Homo sapiens: one gene and its partner. The protein of the gene in region 1 interacts with the protein of each later gene in a biochemical or structural test. Each region holds a gene or a part of one and is shown in the gene's direction. Other genes may lie near its edges.

What was found. Proteins that work in one complex are often made in the same cells at the same time.
Region 2: the proteins of RARA (region 1) and KDM5A form a complex in vitro, tested with the Homo sapiens proteins (one study listed by BioGRID).

What each region holds. Positions count from the first base shown.
Region 1 is NC_000017.11:40,312,179-40,319,204, forward strand, and holds part of RARA (retinoic acid receptor alpha), read left to right. Parts: intron 1-3,014; exon of another isoform or gene 3,015-6,573; intron 6,574-7,026. UniProt on the Homo sapiens protein: Receptor for retinoic acid. Retinoic acid receptors bind as heterodimers to their target response elements in response to their ligands, all-trans or 9-cis retinoic acid, and regulate gene expression in various biological processes.
Region 2 is NC_000012.12:302,303-309,328, reverse strand, and holds part of KDM5A (lysine-specific demethylase 5A), read left to right. Parts: intron 1-1,323; coding exon 1,324-1,875; intron 1,876-2,239; coding exon 2,240-2,383; intron 2,384-7,026. UniProt on the Homo sapiens protein: Histone demethylase that specifically demethylates 'Lys-4' of histone H3, thereby playing a central role in histone code. Does not demethylate histone H3 'Lys-9', H3 'Lys-27', H3 'Lys-36', H3 'Lys-79' or H4 'Lys-20'.

The sequences.
Region 1 (7,026 bases):
TGGGTGCCCACAATGTGGTTGGCACTGATTTGTCAGAAATTGGGAAGGTTTCCCTCTAGACCGCTTGCCTCCTTTCTCCTCCTCCCGCAGGGTAGGGGCAGCTCTGTGATTGCAGGCACTTATGGGCAGGCCTCCCCCTAGGAAAGGGGTGTGGGATGCCCCCAGGATGGCCAAGTTGGCGCTAGCCCCAGGCTGGAGTGCTGGACATGATTCTGACCTGGGAGTTAGTGGGGGTAAGGCAGGGCATGGGCCTCCCTGCCCCCCTCATTTCCTGCTCTTTGGGCAGCTGTGGGCGAGAAAGGCTGCAGGGACTATTTTTAGTTGGTCAGTCCCCTGGCAGGAGGGACGTGCAGAAAAGCACGGGGCAGGCAGAGGGGCTGGCCAAGGTGAGGGTAAGCAGGCAGGCAGAGGAGTGAGGAAGGGCCAGAGGGGCAGAAGACAGCAAGGAGGCATGGGGAGCAGGGGCAGGACCTTACCCAGAGGGGCATGACCCAGGTAGATGGGCCGGGCTGGACTGGGTGGAAGAGTCCTGGCACCCTACAGGGTTTTCTTTATCCAGCTGGACTCAGAGCTGGAAGGGGTTTTAGAGGCTACCTAGGCAATCCCTTCCCCTTGCAGAGAAGGAAACTGAGGCCTAGAGAGAACACTCAATCAGTCATTGGCTGTGTTGAGACCTGAACCCAGGCCCTCCCTTTGCACCATTTTTCTGTTGTCATGGTTCCTCACCACAGCTCAGTGTGCTTCCCTTCCCTACTGCAGCAAGGAGGACCACGAGCCAGGCACACCTGGTCCATTTTCCCATCTGCTTTTTTGTGCAGGGTCTCTGAAAATCCCAGCTTGGTTTGTTTATAAGTCTCCATGTGGAAAGAGTCTGTGTCCAGGCTAGAAGGAGGTCAGAGTTGGGTTTGTTTGGGTGGCCTGTGGCCACTGGTGTGAATGGAGCTGCTGGACAGGCTCCAGCAGGCTCACAGGCTGGTGAGCTGTGGGGCTAGGAGACACCTTACAGAAGGGACGTCCAGACTCCCCAGAGCCCTTTGTGAGCCCTCCTCCTGCCCTGCCCAGGACCTGTGGGTCATGGTGGTTGTTTGCCCATCTCCCCAACAAAAGAAGGGAGCAGGGCTGAGGAGTGGGGAGATTACTACTGGCTTCTGATCGCTAGTCAGAAGGAGGCCCCCTCTGAGGCCTGGAGGCAGGGAAAGTTGGGGCAAGTTGGGGTGTGTATGGGGAGAAAACTCAATGGAGAATTGTGGTCCCTCAGAATTCAGTCTGCTTTCTGTCTTCTGCCTCAGGCTCTCCCCACAGGCCACCATGCTGCACAGCTGCAGGGGGAACCATTCCATAGACTATGATGTGAATGGCACCCCCTGGGGTTGTTCAAGGCCCTGCCTGTGTAGCCACACGTGGTGCATCTGTCTCCCACCTTCTTCCTTCAAATTAGTTCAGACCCACCTGGAAGGAGGTGTTCCAGACAGGCCTTAATCCAACACCCTCTCCCCTACCCTGCCTCATGCCACTCAACATCTCCTATTCCTCTGCTGCCCACCCCCAACGCACCAAGCAAGTCATGGTGCACCACCAATTGTGGTTCAGAAGCCCCTCCCCTTCTCTCTACGCAGTTTCTGTGTCTCTTGGGGGCTGATTTATCATACCCCCCATCAAGCCTACTGCAGTGTGTGAGAAATCAATAGTGCAAATGGATTGAGGCTGTTTAGCCTGTCAACTCTCCTTGGGCCCCACCAACTCTTCTGGGACTTGCGGAGTTGCTCAGTCCCCTTCTGGCTCAACATACACATATTTAGTGGTTGTAGCCAGAGCACTGAGCACAGGAATTATTCTTTCTGTTGGTCTCTGTCTCATTCTCTCTCATATACTAGGCTGGTCTTAACATGACAAATACTCTTGAACATTTATTTTCTAGCTTGGGTGGACGGGCTTAAAGGGCAGTAGGCTGCCAGCCAGAGGTAGGGAGGGAGGCAGGTGGGTGAGGGATATGGCGGGTGGAGGGGTGGGGTGGGGGTGGGGACGAGCTGGGGAAGGGATTGGGTGACAGCCCACCCCATCAGCTCTGGTAACTCAATCCCTGCACCCCACCCTCCCAATTTCCCTCCTGCTCAACAACTTCAGCAGCTGCTGGCAGAAGCAAGGCTGGCAGAAGTGTGTTTGAGTGCATGTGTATATGAGGGGAGAGGGTGAGAGGGGCTGTGGGGGCAGGGAGTGCTGCCAGGACATGTTAAAGGAGACTCACAGCCTGGGTACAACTTGGGTGGCAGGAGGAGGTGGGGCAGGTGGGAGAGTGGGTGGTGAGTGATGGGCAGGCTGCAGTGGGGGCAGGGCAGCACAGGGGTCTCACAAAACTTGTTGGCACTGGAGCGGGGCCTGGTGTGGTGGGGGTGGGCAGTGGTGAGGGGGCAGGGGCTGGCACAGACATTGCTGGCCCCAGAATGCTGAGGCCCATTCTTTGCCAGGGGGCGCATGTAACCATGGAGGGACAGTCTGCCCCTGTCTGCAATCCTTGGGCTGTGCCTGCTGGGCATCACAGTCTTGGTGGTGACTAAGTCACTTCTGTCCTGGGGCTGGCAAGGTGCCAGGCTCAGCTCTTCTCGGTAGGTGAGTCACTGCCCTGGCATCTCCCCCGGATGCAGCTGAGTCACCCAGCCATGCCTGCTAGGCAGGTGGGCACCAGGCTTGTGGTGGGGGTGGAGGGCTATGTGTGCAGCCCCCAGTGTCTTCTCTGATCTCTCTCTGGCATGTCCTGGCCCCACCCATAAACCTGCAGAGCCAGGCAAGGATGGCGCTTCTCCCTTGTGATCCACTAAGGGGTGAAGGAAAAGGTAGCAGGGCACAGAGTGGAGTCATACATGTTTGATTTGGAGTAAGTAGGGGAGGAAAGAGTTGAGGAGGGAACATTGATTGGGTTATATGTATATATATATATATATATATGCTTATATGTGTATATATATATATATATATATATATATATATATATATATACACACACACACACACACACACACGTATATATTTATTTATTTTAACAAAAAAGACACAGGGTCTTGCTATGTTGCCCAGACAGGTCTTGAACTCCTGGAGTCAAGCAACTCCTGGCGTCCCATCTTGGCCTCCCAAAGTGCTAGAATTAAAGGTGTGAGCCACCATACCTGGCCTGGGTTTGAATCCCAGCCCTGCCATTGACAAGCTGTATGACGTTGAGGAAGGCAATTTTCTTTTTGAGCCTCAGTTTTTTCATCTCTACAATGGCAACAGGAGCCTGCCCCTTCAGGACTGTGAGAATCAAATGGAGTGGGACTATTAAGGTACTTGTGGGAGGAGCTCCTTTTGGGATGAGCTAGGAGGCTTGGGAGGGGAAGAGGAGTCAGCTGGAGCTGGTTCCAACAAACTCCCGCACCATGGTCTTGGAGGGCCAATTGCTTCTCATCATCTCTTCGGAGTATCACTTAATGCTGTTCTTCAGGAGTTTCCACAGGCTGTGAGAAGACAGCCTTGTTGTACTAGAAGTGTGGGCCCTCCTAGGGTGTCTCAGAGCTATATTTTATCTCTTTTGACTACTGAGAACTGCCACTGGCCCTGGTACCTGTCCAGACTCTCTTCCTTCACTTCCTCTAGTTTGAAGAGGGATGGGGCTCAGACTCCTCCCCCAGCCTATCTCCTGTGTGCAGGGAAACAGTAGGCCCCAAGGAGTGTCCTTCTTAGAGTGAGGCGCCCCGAGCCTGTGGCTTTTCTCTCTCTGCTAGTTTCCTGCTGCTCCCTGGGTACCCTTCTCTCCTCCTGCATCAGAGTCCCTGGTGGGAGGGGGTGGTGGAAGCCCTGTTATGAGCCCAGCATAGCTGGAGTTCAACTGCTGCTGCAGATTGAAGACTCCTGGTCCCCCACCTGGGGACCTCTCCTGCCTTCTGCAGTCAAGCTTGGGTAGGGCTGGGCCTTGGACAGGTGGTACTGGTTTCCCTGGACAGGAAGGAAATGCCCCAAAGATGTGCATGCTTTGTGTTTGTACACACGGGTGCTGGTCTTGTTTGAGTGTCTGACCCCTGCGGGGGGTGGGTTTGTGTGTATGAATTTCTTCCCTCATCCACACATGGGGCTACTTCTGTGTCTGTGCAGAAGTGTGCCCCACCCTCTGCTTCATGCCCTTGTCTGTGCACAAATGTGTTTGGATGTACTTGTTCATGCGTGGATGTGCATACATGCGTCGGGGATGTACACATCCCTGCCCTGAATGTGCACGTGGAAATGCATTTGTACCAGGATGCCTGACCCTATGATGGCAGGTGTACCTGAAGGTCGTCCCACTTGGGAGGCAGTGTAGCTGTGTGCATGCATGCTTGCATTCTTGTGTCCATGAGCCTTCCCCTCCAGCCTCAAGGAAGGAAGACAGGTAGGATCTAGGTTGGGAGGTGTCCGTGGGCACTAGGGGCGGGCTGGCGCTGACTCCAGTCCTGGGCTGGTTCTCACCTGGGCAGAGCTCCCTGCTGTTGGCGGGGCTCAGGCTGGAAGGCCCTTGGGGGAGCGCGGCTGGGGGGTAAGGGGTTAAGCGGTGGCGTCCACATCTGGGAGCCATTGGCGCATTCCTGCCGGCTGAGCGCATGTTTGCGGATGAATCTGGACAGGACAGGGCGGGAGGGGCTGGGCGGGAGGTTCGCACCGGCGGACGGAAATCCAGACGGGAGCGGGAGACAGCTCCGGCCCAGCAGGCGGGAAGGGGCCTGGGGAAGCGCGGCCCAGCACTGCTGGGGCAGTTTCCCGTGCGCCGGCCCTCAGGGCAAAGGGTCCCGCCATCCTGGCTTGTCCTACCTTACCATGGCTCTTGGGCTAAAGCCAGGGACAATCAGATACTTCAATTCTAGACCCGGCTCTGCAACCGGTGCGACTGTGCACAAAACCCAGTGCCTGCTCTTGGACTCTCTTTCCTTGTTTGTAAAGCGGGGTCCGTCGGACCAGTGGGTTTGAGAGCTCTGCCACCGGGTCAGGCTGAGAGTCTCCTCACTGGGCTGGAGGCCTGGGAGTGCAGCACTTCCCCTTCCAGTGGGAAGTTCTGTGGGGGCACTTGTGGCCACTTCTCTGCCTGGGAACAGGGCGAGAGGGGAGTATTCTAAGCAATTCTGCTTCCCCCTAAGCCCGCCAGTGGACTGCTAGCGATGGGGACAGGATCCTCCCAAACAGAGCTGCAGGCTGGGAGGGGGGTCATGACTGTATTGGGGACTGGGGGTCTCTCAGATGGAGGGTGATTCAGATCCTGTCCAGCTGGAACATGAAAAAGAGCTTTCCTGGCTTCTCCAGACTTGTTCGGGAGAGAGAAGCTTGAGTGTGAGTCTTTGAGCACGGAGGGGTGCTCCTGGGCGCCCCTACTGGAAGATCCAAAAGTCTTGCCCTTTGAGGAGAAGAGTACTTTAAGGGGGCTGGGAGGGTTGGGTTGAGCCAGGGTTCCTAGGACCCACTGGAGCTGCAGAGGTGTTTGGGGAAAGAAGAGATATACTTGCGGGAGATCTACTCCTGGACTCTTTTTTTTTTTTTCTTTTTCTTGCAGCTGAGATAATTAAGATCCAGGGAAGGGAAGTGACTTGGTCAAGGTCACACAGCTCTCAGTTCCAGCTGGTCCCTAGAAGAGGATTATAATTATAGGATTCAGGGGCTTGACAGCTAGGGCAGGAGTCACCGCACTCACTTCCATATTACGCCGCCGCCTCACTTCTCAGATTTAGGTGTGGGTGTGTGTGTGGTTGGGGGGAAAGGAGTGTAGGATACCACACGCTGCGGTCTTCTCCACCGAGCGCTATTTTCATTCTTTCCGCAGAACCTCACCCCGTTCTTGCTCTGAATCTTCGGTTCTGGGTCTGAGGGAGGGATTCTCCCGGATTCCCACGGTCCAGTCTTCAACTAGGAGTGGCTCCTTTAAGACTCGCCCTTCCCGAGGTCTATTAAGGAGAGGCGGGGGCGGGCGTGAGCCTGTAGATCCGCCCCTGACTGGTGATTGGTCGGTGGGCGGGCAGGGGCGGGCCTGAGGGACAGGGCCTCCCCCTACCTCTGCTCCGTACCCTCCGCCCCTTCAGTCTGGGGCTCCGGGTAAAGTTTCAGCCTCCGCACGTGACTCGCTATGGCCGCTGCCATCGCCCCGCGCCCCTGAGCCGCGGCCCCCTGGACGGCTCCTCTCCCGGGACCCCGCACCCTGATGCCGAGCAGCACCAGGGCGCCGGGTTAGGGCAGACGCTGTGCTCGCTGGCACCCCGAACGGGTTGCTTCCCCCGCTGCGAGGTAATTCCTCCCCTGGGGATTTTGGGGAGCCCCTGGTTCCCGCAGGCGTCGGGGCCCCATGTCCTGCCCCAGATTGGTGCTGCGGGAGGGGACTGGGTACCGGGAGGCTTCCGACGGGAACCCGGGGTTTCCTGGGCTTCCCAACTCGCTGCCGCCGTGTCCAGGGTGGGGGAGCCCCGTCTGTGAGTCTGCCTGCGCCGTGTCTTCGCGCGCAGCCTTGAGGCGTCTGGGGCCGTCTGCTGCGCGTGTCCCCCGCGCTCGAGCTGTTGCAGAACCGCCGCTGGGAACTTCTGTTCTTTTTCTCTTTAATGATAAGCAAAACAAAAAGACTTGAATTCAAACCTGTTTGGGGAGAGATCGGATGCTCAACGGACTAGCCCCCTCTCTTTTTCCCTCCTGTTATCTGAGCTGCCCTGTGGTTTGGGGAGAATCAGCCAGGGGGCCCACTCCCACCAGAGGGAGCCGGCCGGGGGCCGGGCCGGTTCAGCTGGTGTCCCCCGTGGAGTGAGGGGAACCGTCAGAATTGGGTGCGGGAGCCAATGCAGTATGTGTGTAGGGGTGTTCCTGGGTCTTGTGCCACCATGGGGTGTGGGAACTTTTTGGGGTGAGGGGAAGACGGAATAGACTGACTTGTCGACTTTGCTCTGCTGAGGGTGTCTGGGACCTGGTGCCACCCACGAGGCTTGGAAGCTGCTGGCCAGATGTGTGTGTGAGCCTGTTGTGGGGTTGGGGGGACGGCTGGGAAATGAGCTTGGC
Region 2 (7,026 bases), on another chromosome or scaffold:
AAAATTCGAGCTAAACCTACATTTAAGAAAGAGTAATAAAAACGAAATAATTATCCAGTTTTTGGTAAATTAGTGAGTGACAGTGGCATTGGCCAGGAATTGATTTTTTTCTCATCAGTGTTATAATGAAACTACACTGAACGTAAAGATGTTATTTGAGGACCTGCTGTAGTTTTCTAATTTTGAGCATTTTGCCTGTTACTAAGTTTCTTATTGTAAGTAATAAAATGAACTTCTTTTATAACCTTTTCCTTCTTTTAAATTTCCTAGACTTGACTCTTAGGAATGTAATTACTGGGTTAGAATTTAATATAAGCATTTTATGACTCTTATTACTATTGTGTTTTTCAAAGGAATTATACCAGGCTACAGATTTCCATCTCTTAATGAGTGTTAAAATATTTGTAGTTGATGAGAATTATGCTTTTTTGGAGGATAGGAGGAATGTGTTAAGATTACTAGGAGCCTGAGGAAATGGAAAATAAATACGAATCTGGACAATAAAAGTAGGGAATTGCATGTGATATAGCTCTTTCTGCCTACAAATGATTCTGTTTTGAAGCCAGTGAAAATATTCTCTGATTAGAGAGCCTGCCTAACAAGTCAATCTTGCTAGACAAGTAGGACTGGAAATTATTTCAAAATTGTTTCAAAGCTGCCAGTAGTTTAACAAGAAAATGCACTGACAGTATTGATAATTAAATTTGTTTGCCTTTATTTACTTTGTTAAAATGAGTTTCATAAAACTCTGTTGTTACAACTGATCGTCAAGTTTTGTTATTCTACTTATACATGAAGAGGCTTTCCAGAGAGAAGTAAATTAATTTGTGTAGGACTTGCCCCAGGGAATGAATTACGAGGTGATAGGAAACTAATACTTTAAGAGTGTTTACCTTGTGCAAGGTACCAGGTTAGGCACTTTCATATGTTATCTTATTTAATCCGTAAAACAGCAAAATACGGTTGGTAGTATTCTCATTTTTCAGAAAACGGACGTTCTGAAACTTGTACCCCATATTAACAGTCTAAAAGTACAAGAGCCAGGCTTTGTACCCAGGTTGCTTGATTTCAAGGCATGCCATCTTTGTACCGCACCCTACAGAAGAGGCCAAAGTACTGTACTGATGTACATGATCAAATATGATAGCACTTTGCCCATTTCACACTTGAGGAATGTTTGCATGGAAACCGCCAGGGGCCCCACATTTTAGGAAACTGTTTATAACTGATAACTTGGGAGAAAGATCCCACAGCCTTGAGGATTTGGTATTTTGGGGGGTATATTGCAGTGACTCTTTTCAATTAAATGTTTGTCTTGTACAGGTGGCAGTTTTCAAAGAACGGGAGCAAAAAGAGATTGAAGCCATGCATTCTCTCAGAGCAGCCAACCTAGCCAAGATGACAATGGTGGACCGCATAGAAGAAGTAAAATTTTGCATTTGCCGCAAGACAGCCAGTGGGTTTATGCTACAGTGTGAGCTCTGCAAAGACTGGTTCCATAACAGCTGTGTTCCTCTTCCTAAATCAAGTTCCCAAAAAAAAGGATCCAGCTGGCAAGCTAAAGAAGTAAAATTCCTTTGCCCTCTTTGTATGCGGTCTCGAAGGCCCAGGCTAGAGACTATTCTGTCACTCCTGGTATCCCTTCAGAAGTTGCCCGTACGGTTGCCTGAAGGAGAGGCCCTGCAGTGTTTGACAGAACGTGCTATGAGTTGGCAAGATAGAGCGCGGCAGGCTCTAGCCACAGATGAACTATCCTCTGCCCTGGCCAAACTATCTGTGTTGAGCCAGCGTATGGTGGAACAGGCGGCTCGAGAAAAAACTGAAAAGATCATCAGTGCAGAACTCCAAAAAGCAGCTGCCAATCCAGACTTACAGGCAAGTTTAGGATTTACATTCTTTTTCTATTTCATGGGATATGTCAGTGTATAAATAGTAAATTGAGTCTGTCTTACCAATTGATTAGGAAAATAACAGTAACTTGTCAGCAATTATCCATTGCATTCTCCTTCAACATACACTATAGCACTTTTTTTGGATACGTACTTAGTGAAATATTCTTGGTAATATCATTCAGGTGGACTTTGGCATCATAATCAAATAATTTGATTTCTACTAACTGTTGAAGAACTCTGTTAGCCACTTTGCTTATTCATTACATTTTGGTGATCTTAAGCACACATTAATTACCCTGTCTGTTTAGCATGTCTTGCTGTTCATCTTGGAATTATTTGTTGTTTAGGGACACTTACCTAGTTTCCAGCAGTCTGCTTTTAACCGGGTGGTGAGCAGTGTGTCATCTTCTCCTCGACAAACAATGGACTATGATGATGAAGAAACAGACTCTGATGAAGACATTCGAGAGACATATGGCTACGACATGAAGGTAGTTACATGGACAAGCTGTGTGGGTACATACCTGATCATTGGGTTTGTTTAAAAAAAAAAAAAGCTATTGAACAGTGATGTTTGAGGCCTGAAAGTGAAAGAGAAAACTAATCATTTATCTGTTCTGAGTTTTTAGTCGTAGCATTTTTTCAAAACTCAAAACATTACAGGTTGCTGAAACAATTTTTTTTTTTTTTTTTGGAGATGGAGTCTCGCTCTGTCACCCAGGCTGGAATGCAATGGCGCGATCTCTGTTCAGTGCAACCTCTGCCTTCTGGGTTCAAGCAATTCTTGTGCCTCAGCCTCCCAAGTTGCTGGAATTACAGGTGCATGCCACTCTGCCTGGCTAATTTTTGTGTTTTTAGTAGAGATGGGGTTTCGTCATGTTGGCCAGGCTGGTCTTGAACTCCTGACCTGAAGTGACCTGCCTGCCTCGGCCTCCCAAAGTGCTGGGATAACAGGCCTGAGCCACCACGCCAGGCCTGAAACAATTTTTAAAAAATAGAATTAAAAAATCTGTATTTGTTTTACTCATCTTATAATCCCTTATGGCTTAGAGGAACTAGAAAAACAATATGTAAAGCTTTCTTGGCCAATTTCAGTTTTTCAGATTTTTTTCTTTGAGTTGTGAAAGTCTGTATACAGTTAAGTTTTAAGAATTCCATTCTAGGCTTGGTGTGGTGGCTCATGCCTGTAAACCTAACAATTTAGGGGAGACTGAGGTGGAAGGATCACTTGAGCCCAGGAGTTTGAGACCAGCCTGTGCAACATATTGAGACCCCCATCTCTACAAAAAATACAAAAATTAGTTGGGTGTGGTAGCACACACCTGTAGTCCCAGCTACTTGGGAGGCTGAAGTGGGAGGATTGCTTTGAGCCTAGGAGGTCGAGGCTGCAGTGAGCCATGATTGCACCACTGCCCTCCAGCCTGGGCAGCACAAGACCTTGTCTCAAAAAAAAAAAAAAAAAAAAAACACTTCCATTGCTAGAGTCTTTTGCTCTGCTTTCTCGTCTGGATGGTGCTAGATAGAATGTCACATTCGGAGATGGGTAATATAATACTTGGGCCCAGGTTAGAATTTGCTGAGTTCCAGTTGCAGATACAACAAATTATTTACCATCAATGTGATTATTTTGGTAATGACACGTTACTGGTGGTGAAGAGAAGGTTTTGACAAGTTTGTTTTGTGTTGGATCCAGTTGGCTTTTCGTTAGCCCTTTTTGTCAGGTGCAAGCCCTTTGCTTTTTAACCTAGTAATAACAATGTGATTAGGCAGAGACCCTGCCAGATTACAGTCAATCCATTGACTTGTTTTATATGATTCTTAGTTGCTTTGTTTAGAATCTATTCTTGTAACCTGGGAATTCCTACTCTGATACAAAAGGCTGCTTCCAGAGAACAAGGGGAGATTCTGTTCCTACCCCTTCACTATCTTTTATTTGTCTTTTCAGCTTGCAGATCAGCATGGTACTGCTCATTAATCTCATCAGCATTAAAACTCCTAGGATATAAAATTAAAACCATCCATCATAGACGCTCGTAGATTCCTCTGCTGGGAAATATTTTTTCTCAAGATAGAAATGGGAATTTTCAGTTATGTGACTTAAAGACTTGAAAACAGTTGAAACTTGAATTAGACTGTTCAAATAATCTTTTTTTATATTAAAATATCTTATTATATGGTAGATTATTATTTTTCAGTTTTGAAAGTTTTGTGAACAGATGGCCAAGTTTTGTTGCACTGATTTTCAAGGGCTGATTGAGGGCCATTATTAAGAAAAGAGGCATTACAGTTGCGTACAGTTCTTGAATATCATCTTAGTGTACTGCTAAATCCCATTATGAAGAATTCATTGGCAGTCTGCTGAAAGGTACACTAGCTTATACCACACACAGCGGTACATTCTTAAGCACGTTGTTATCCAGAAGTTAATGACTATCTTTGTTTACGAAGTTGTATATAGGGTGACTAAGAGCAGCTGAAAAGAAATGCAACCCATGCCAAGTATAATTAGCTTTTTCCTTGAATACTGGAATCACCCGTTTACCCTAGTTAGAGGCCTTTGATATTTTTGGTGGTTGCTTTCTAGCACATTAGCTATCAGCCACTCTTCTAGAATTGCTTAACATGATGGGCTTTGCTTGAAAGCAGACTGGTAACCTATGAAAACATCACAAGTATTGATGATTTTCAGGACTAGGGATCACAACTGCAGTTTCATATGGTTGGATGGAGTAGTCTTTTTGTGGAGGAATTTATATGAGAATCTTAGCTTACTGTCTCTTTGGTAGTGGGTATTGGCAGGGTAGAAAAATAAGATTATGGATTTTCTAGTGTTAGCAATGTATTTGACAGCTGAGAAGAATGGTGGCAAGACTTATGGTAATTCAAGTTCAAATTTACTTTGCAGTCAGATGCTCTACCACTGAGCTATATACCCCTGCCAATTTACTTTGATGTTGATATCTTTGAATGAAAAAAAAAAAAAAAAAAAAGCCTATACTCTTGAGCATTTTCCCACAGAGCAAGCGATAATTGTATAATGAAAATTTTATTTGCCGGTTTATTTGCATTTGACCTGGTGGTTTTTTCCTTTGTGTGATGTCCTCTGTTGTGACCATAAATTCATAACTTAAAATACTTTGAACTTAGTATTCTTGCTTGAGGAAGAGCCCCCTCTTGGTTTAGGAGGAGGGGTAGGTAATTATTTAGTAAAATAAAATCAGTCATTTTATCTTAGTTACCATCCAGAAAATCATTACTTACGAGGTACATATTTAATGAAGCAAAGTCTGTCCTGCATCTTTTGGGATTGTGTCTATGTAGGTGAGCTTGTGGAAACTAATTTCAAGGAGAATCATAGACCTAATCAGAGCTCACTTAACATTGCAAGGACTTTAAGTGTAACAATGAGATTAATGGGCAGTACCAAGCTGATCTGCAAGCTGAACTTATTTTTCCCCCTCATCACTGTTATAATGAAATGAAAACAACTTTATTCAAAGACCTGCTACTATACTTCCTTTTGCTTAAAGGCAGTTTCTAAGAACCTACCAATGACATTACATGAAGACTTACTGTAATCTATATATTGTCAGTCAGACATATACTTGTATTAAGAGCAATTGGTAAGATTCTAGGTTTGAAAACCTGTAGAGAGGATTAAATGGTTTGTGTCCTTAGGCTGTCACATCTAAATTTATCTTCCCCTCCTTAACTTGTTGGTATAGGAGTTATTATAGGTTGTAGACTATAGAAGGTAGATTACTTAACCATAATTTTTTTTGTATTATACTTTAAGTTCTGGGGTACATGTGCAGAACGTACAGGTTTGCTACATAGGTATACACGTGCCATGGTGGTTTGCTGCACCCATCAACCACATTAGGTATTTCTCCTAATGCTATGCCTCCCCTAGGCCTGCACCCCTGGACAGGCCCTGCTGTGTGATGTTCCCCTCCCTGTGTCCATATGTTCTCGTTGTTCAACTCCCACTTATGAGTGAGAACATGCAGTGTTTGGTTTCCTGTTCTTGTGTTAGTTTGCTGAGAATGATGGTTTCCAGCTTCATCCATGTCTCTGCAAAGGACACGAACTCATCTTTTTTTATGGCTACGTAGTATTCCATGGTATATATGTGCTGCATTTTCTTCATCTATTCTATCATTGGTGGGCATTTGGGCTGGTTCCAAGTCTTTGCTGTTGTGAACAGCACTGCAGTAAACATATGTGTGCATGTGTCTATAGTAGAATGATTTATAATCCTTTGGGTATATACCCAGTAATGGGATTGCTGGGTCAAATGGTAATTCTAGTTCTAGATTCTTGAGGAATTGCCAGAGTCTTCCACAATGGTTGAACTAATTGACACTCCCACCAACAGTGTAAAAGCATTCGTGTTTCTCCACATCCTCTGTAGCATCTGTTGTTTCCTGACTTTTTAATGATTGCCATTTTAGCTGGTGTGAGATGGTATCTCATTGTGGTTTTGATTTGCAATTCTCTAGCGACAGTGATGATGAGCATTTTTTCATATGTTTGTTGGCTGCATAAATGTCTTCTTTTGAGAAGTGTCTGTTCATATTCTTCGCCTACTTTTTGATGGGGTGGTTTTTTTCTTGTAAATTTGTTTAAGTTCTTTGTAGATTCTGGATATTAGCCCTTTGTCAGATGGATAGATGGCAAAAATTTTCTCCCATTCCGTAGGTTGCCTGTTCACTCTGCTGATAGTTTCTTTTGCTGTGCAGAAGCTCTTTAGTTTAATTAGATCCCATTTGTCTATTTTGCCTTTTTTGCCATTGCTTTTGTTGTTGTAGTCATGAAGTCTTTGCCCATGCCCATGTCCTGAATGGTGTTGCCTAGGTTTTCTTCTAGGGTTTTTGTGGTTTTAGGTCTTACCTTTAAGTCTTTAATCCATCTTGAGTTAATTTTTGTGTGAGGTGTAAGGAAGGGATCCAGTTTCAGCTTTCTGCATATGGCTAAGCCAGTTTTCCCAACACCATTTATTAAATAGGGAGTCCTTTCCCCATTTCTTTTTGTCAGGTTTGTCAAAGATCAGATGGTTGTAGATGTATGGTGTTATTTCTGAGGCCTCTGTTCTGTTCTATTGGTCTGTATATCTGTTTTGGTACCAGTACCA